2 separate regions of the Homo sapiens genome follow, and region 1 is reported to be linked to region 2. Evidence: microRNA targets listed by miRTarBase, many of them from high-throughput screens and not tested one by one. Region 2 holds a microRNA gene; the other region holds the end of a gene's coding sequence.

Region 1 (3,094 bases), not on the chromosome of region 2:
GGGCATCGATCCCACCAGGGGATCCCAGGGGGCACAGAGCAGCCCCTTGTCTGAGCCCAGCAGAAGCAGCACAAGACCCCCAAGCATCGCTGACCCTGATCCCTCTGACCTACCAGTTGACCGAGCAGCCACCAAAGCCCCAGGGATGGAGCCCAGTGGCTCTGTGGCTGGCCTGGGGGAGCTGGACCCGGGGGCCTTCCTGGACAAAGATGCAGAATGTAGGGAGGAGCTGCTGAAAGATGACAGCTCTGAACACGGCGCACCCGACAGCAAAGAGAAGACGCCTGGGAGACATCGCCGCTTCACAGGTGACTCGGGCATTGAAGTGTGTGTGTGCAACCGGGGCCACCATGACGATGACCTCAAAGAGTTCAACACACTCATCGATGATGCTCTGGATGGGCCCCTGGACTTCTGCGACAGCTGCCATGTGCGGCCCCCTGGTGATGAGGAGGAAGGCCTCTGTCAGTCCTCTGAGGAGCAGGCTCGAGAGCCTGGGCACCCGCACCTGCCACGGCCGCCCGCATGCCTGCTGCTGAACACCATCAACGAGCAGGACTCTCCCAACTCCCAGAGCAGCAGCTCCCCCAGCTAGAGCAGGTCCTGCCAGCACCCAGCAACTTGGCAAAGCAACCAGGGTAGGGGAGAACCACGAGAGAAGCATTAAGTGACTTTCAAAGACTTTCAGAGTACAGCCACTTGGTTCCTTTTTGTTTGTTTTCCTTCTCCTCTCCTGCATTTTCCTCCATCTCCAGGTACAGTTCGGGGTGTGGATGCCTCTTCCTCCACAAGGGCACAGTGTTGTGGAGGGCTAAGTTGGTTCTGTGACTCATTCCTCATACCCTAACTCCATCTCCTTTCTTTAAAGTCAAATCTCACCTACCTGTTTGGGTCAGAGAGATGTGTTTTAAAAGCCCCCAAGGAAGGAGGCTGGGACTGTGCCCTGACATGATTCTTGGTGATGGAATAGGTTTGTGCTCTGATTCTAGTTTAAGAGAACGTTGCTGTATCTCAGTCCAGGAGAGGCAGCCCATCTTGGCCCTGGATGAAGAAGGAAACCCACAGAGGCCCAGGGCTTGTCATTGGGCTGCCAGTGTCTGCCAAGCCAGCATTGAGCTAATCCTGTGGGAGGATGAGAGCTACTGGGCCGTTGTATGATAGGTTGGTAGGGGCTTGTTGATCTGTCAAATTCCAGGTGACAAGATCTATGCACCCCATGCGTCCTTGAGGGGCCTCTTCCCCGCAGGCTCTGGCTGGCCGCAGGCTGGTTCTGGTGTGAAAGGTTATACTGCCTTTTCTTTGTTTGTTTGTTTTTTTCTCTAAAAACAAACAGCAAAAGACAGCTGAAAACAAGAACTTCACCGGTGGGCAGGCAAGAATTCTCTTCTGGAAAATGACGTTTGTGGCTCTTTCCCAAGTTGGCCTTCAAAGAGCCTGCCTGCTGTTGAGCCAGAAGATGTCTCGTGTGAAGGCTGGGGTGGCGGCTGTCTTGGAACCTCTGTGAGCAGGAGGCCCTAAGCCGCAGCAGTGGATAGAGGTGCAGCTCTCTGCCTCTCTGCCCTTTGGTCTGTGTTCACAGGTGACCCGTGTCAGCCTGCATCGCAAGCACACACCCTGCGGGCCTTCAAGTCTCACTGTTCCGTATGAGGAAACAGACAGCGGACTGAGGAAGCGATGGCCCCAGAGAAAGGGCCCCTGTAGCCTGGCTCTCACACAGTATTTTATCTTTGATTCTGAATAAATATTTTTTGTGGGGTTTTTTTTTTTTTTTTGGTGGCAGTTGTTTGTTTTAAACTGACCACTTGGAAGAAACACCTTGGTTATCTGTGGTTTTCATGCCTTGTCCCTGCCTCTACCCCCACCCCTTTTGAGTCGGGTGACTCATTTTTCTGTGTAGAGACTCGGTGGCCCAGGCAGGAGGTGAAAGCAGCCATCCGGAAGGCCCTGGGGACCCTTGTGCCTGTTGCTCGCCTTCAGGTCACCAGCTGAGCTGCGATAGGAAAATCTGAATGGAGGCAGCAAACAGCCAAAACAAACATTCCCCACCCGGCCCTGTGCATATGAAGTCTTTCTTCCCCCAACTCTTGAACGATGATGATATTCAGACGAAGCATTGATGTTATGGAAGAAAGAAAGAAACAAACAAAATATATATATATATGTCCAAAAACAGACAAATCCAAGGGTGTGAGGTAAACGAGTGTCTGCATTTAGATTCCACAAAACCAAAATCCATGTTGAACAAAGTTAAGTCCGTACACAGTGACTTTTTGGGTGAGCCGTGTGTGTCTGTCTGTTGTGTGTGTGCCTCAAGCCCTGTTTTCCTGTGAAGATACTTTGAGTGGCAGCCATTCTCTCCACGTGAACCACACGTCTGGAGCACAGACAGGCCTCTCAAGGTCATTGATCTTACGCATTTACTGTTTACCGAACAAATGTCTGACTGTGTACTCGGGTGTACTCCGCAGCATTGTCGACTGCAGTCCCCTGTGTTTGCCAGAGATACTGTGCTCGAAGTAGAGGTTTTACTCTACTCATCACTGCGATTTGCACATTGCTCCGTGGACACTCGGAGGCCTGCGTTCTGTTCCCTATAAATGGAAGCGTGCTCTGAGCCTGTCTGCCTCCCTCGGCTGCTGCTGGTCCTCAGTACCAGCGCCCGGGGGTGTCCACAACCACTTGGGACAGAAGAAGGTGGAATTTCAGACAGAAGCTTGACTGGGTCTTCAATGACAGGCTTGGACTAGCTGTGGCCCAGACATCGGCCCTGCCCAGAATTGCCAGGAGGAGGCTTTGCAGGCTCTAGAGGAGCCGCAGGGCCTGCCTGCCTCTGGTGAGTCCAACAGGCACAAGCAAGCTGGCGTGTGGCCAGAGGTAGCCGGAGTGTGTCACAGCCCCTCAGATGCCTTTCCTTCCACCTTTTTTTATTTTTTAAGAATCCCAAATAACTCACTGAAGTGTCTCAAAGGCGAACAAGTTTTACCAAAATGAATCCTTTTTCAGTTAACAGATCAAATGGATGAGTTCTGAGCCTCTCAAGTTCCTTTCCCCAGTTAGAGTGGGGAACTGGGCAAGTGTTAACTGTGGGACTCAC
Region 2 (3,192 bases):
AAAGTACTTTCACATTCATACCAAACTCCTCTCACAGCTTGCAGCTGCAAACATTTCCATAAAATCACAACACAAAGTGGATAATTCTCCAATGAAATCAAGTTTCACTAAGGTCAGAAGCTAAACAGGCAGTGACCACAGGTACAAACTCAGAAAAACCCTTAAAATAACATTCATGCCTTAAGCAGCTTAGGGCTCTCTCTTCTCAGACATTTAAAATGGTGTTAGAGCTTTCTGAAAAAGCTATACTTAGTTTGCCTCTTAAGATGATACTTCTAATTATTTTAGAGCCAAAGATCTGCTTCACCTAGATTGAAGCAGAAAAAGATGGGACGGTGTTTATGGTCATAACATTAACCATTTAATTAAAACAGGCAGTTCTTGAATGCTTTCTAATGACATATAACACACGGCATCTCAAAAGATACTCCTCTGCCTCAAAAGATAAGACAGGGCAGGCACATGGAAAATAAATTTTGTGTTGGTAGTTATAGGATTCAGTTGAGATGTTTAAGTTTGAGCCTAAGATATTCCTTAAAACAACAATGGTCCTTCTAGTCTGCGTAGGAATATAAATAAATGACTTTTGATCCATTAGTAACACTAGCCTTAAAAAAGATAGGTAAAACTGGGAAAAAATAAGCAGTGTTTCTAGGTCACATTATCCCAGATTTGGTTTCTAATATAATCAACCAACAAAATGATGTGGACTCTAATCCTGCTTCTATCATTCATCAATTGTGCAACCCTGTGCAAAACATTTTTCTCTCCAAACCTCAGGTTCTTCACCATTGAGAGAAAGGGAGTTGCCTAGATGATTCCAGAACTGGAGCGAATTTAAAGAGGAAGAGGAGCAGAAAGGAACAGGACATCTTCTGGACTCACAAAAGCCATGTCTCTAGCATGGTTTCTTTCCCTGTCCTTCCAACATTCACCCTGAAGGATATCATTAGCAGGGATTTCCAAGCAACATAATACACTGGAAAACTGTGATTTGTTATATCTAACCTGAGCAACTTTCCCTTAATTATCACGCTAGGGTAGCATACTCACCCCCAGATGGCTCTCACTGCAGAAATTCGAACTGATGGGGGCTGTGTCTCGTGAAGACCACTAACTGTTGCCTGTAGGAACTGCTGGATCAGTTCAGGGGACATAGCAACAGTGAACCGACTGGCAGCCCAAAGTGCCCGGCCCAAGAGGAAAGGAGACACTGGGAGAAAGACAGAACAATTAGGGGCTGGAAAATGAAAATTCCTTTTACTTGTTCTTTCTCTTTCCCACATTCATTCCTCAATTTTTTTTTTTTGAGATGGAGTCTCACTCTGTCACCCAGGATGGAGTGCGATGGCGTGATCTCGGCTCACTGCAACCTCCGTCCCCCGGGTTCAAGCAACTGTCCTGCCTCAGCCTCCTGAGTAGTTGGGATCACAGGCGCCTGCCACCATGCCCGGCTAATTTTTTGTATTTTTAGTAGAGATGGCGTTTTGCCATGTTGGCCAGGCTGGTCTCAAACTCTGGACCTCAAGTGATCTGTCTGCCTCGGCCTCCCAAAGTGCTGGGATTACAGGCATGAGCCACCGCATCCGGCCCTCCATTCCTCAATTTTTTAGAAGTAAATAGATGCTACATAATATGTACAACTCATTTGAGAGAAAAAGCATAACCTTGTATGATGAAAGCAAATGTGTGACCTGTGGTACAAAATCAATTTCCCAGTTTTCCCTTGTCTCTTCTGAGCAAAGTAGATCTTGAATATTATTAGACTAAAAAGACTTTACCACCCCAGTCCTCACCCCCAGCTCTCATTATTCCTTACCTGTACTACTAGTTAATCTTTTTTTTTTTTTTTTTGAGATGAAGTTTCATTCTTGTTGCCCAGGCTGGAGTGCAACAGTGCGATCTCGGCTCACCACAACCTCCACCTCCCTGGTTCAAGTGATTCTCCTGCCTCAGCCTCCCCAGTAGCTGGGATTACAGGCATGCACCACCACGCCCAGCTAATTTTGTATTTTTAGTAGAGATGGGCTTTCTCCATGTTGGTCAGGCTGGTCTCAAACTCCTGACCTTAGGTGATCTGCCTGCCTTGGCCTCCAAAAGTGCTGGGATTACAGGTGTGAGCCATGGTACCCGCCCACTTAATCTTCTAAGTTGCCATCTCCATTGCTAGTTTATTCCCACTTTTGGACCACTCTTTTTTTTTGAGATGGAGTCTTGCTCTGTTGCCCAGGCTGGAGTGTAGTGGCACAATCTCAGCTCACTGTAACCGCTGCTTCCCGGGTTCGAGCGATTCTCCTGCCTCAGCCTCCCGAGCAGCTGGGATTACAGGTGCGTACCACCACGCCTGGCTAATTTTTGTATTTTTAGTAGAGAGGGGGTTTCACCATGTTGGCCAGGCTGGTCTTGAACTCCTGAACTCAAGCAATCCACTCGGCTTGGCCTCCCAAAGTGCTGAGATTACAGGCATGAGCCACCGCGTGCAGCCTTGGACCACTCTTAAAACATAAATTATAGCTCTGATCATGTCATTCTTCTATTTAAAATCTGTCAATTAATTCCATAGTCCACCAAATAAAGATTACCTTAGTCATCACGTTATTCAAGGCTCCCTAAGATCAGTGACTCTAGCATTACCTATGATTTCCCTTTATGGTTTCCAAACTCAAGTACACATCCCTCCTTAGCAACTTACATCTTACTCTCCCAGCTCTCTGCCTTGTTCATATTGCAAGCCAACATATTCACCTCCTTGCATTACCTAATTCATCTCTTAGGCTGAAGCAATTCTAACTATCTCTATGCCACAGTAATTCTGTCTTTAGTGTTCTTACATGTTATATATTTCGTTTGATAGTCTAGCCACTAATGTAAGGATTACTACCCTTGTTTACTATAAGCTGCTGAGGAGAGACTATTCTTATTCAGCTTGTCACAGGGCTTAACTTGTTTACTCACACAATAAACATCTTGTTGACGGAAAACACTGAACAGAACCTAATAAACTGTGCCAGTCAAATTACGCAATACAGATGCTCCTCTGCTTATGATGGGGTTACTTCCTGATAAACACATCGTAAGTTGAAAATACTGTAAGTTAAAAATGCATTTAAATTTAATACTGAACATCACAGCTTAGCCGGGCCTACCTTAAACATGCTCAGAACACTTACATTAGCGTAAAGTTGGGCAAAC

Evidence for each region. Region 2 holds the annotated microRNA hsa-miR-6739-5p (UGGGAAAGAGAAAGAACAAGUA, at 1,262-1,283, opposite strand). A microRNA usually pairs through its seed, bases 2 to 8, with sites in the 3' UTR of a target mRNA and lowers its output. Matches are read on the target gene's strand: a 7mer-m8 pairs with bases 2 to 8, a 7mer-A1 pairs with bases 2 to 7 and ends in A, and an 8mer does both.
Region 1: miRTarBase lists WBP1L as a target of hsa-miR-6739-5p. Seed matches in the 3' UTR shown: 8mer at 1,409-1,416 and 7mer-m8 at 3,044-3,050.

Annotation. Positions count from the first base shown.
Region 1 is chr10:102,812,737-102,815,830 of GRCh38, forward strand. It overlaps WBP1L (WW domain binding protein 1 like), which reads left to right. Exons shown (of 4, transcript NM_001083913.2): 4 at 1-3,094. The coding sequence ends at 595. Among named protein-coding and RNA genes, the nearest start is that of CYP17A1-AS1, 18 kb to the right of the region's middle. RefSeq lists an enhancer at 2,684-3,094.
Region 2 is chr1:201,861,469-201,864,660 of GRCh38, reverse strand. It overlaps MIR6739 (microRNA 6739), which reads right to left and starts at 1,288; the gene lies at 1,214-1,288. IPO9 (importin 9) reads right to left here. Exons shown (of 24, transcript NM_018085.5): 14 at 1,054-1,213.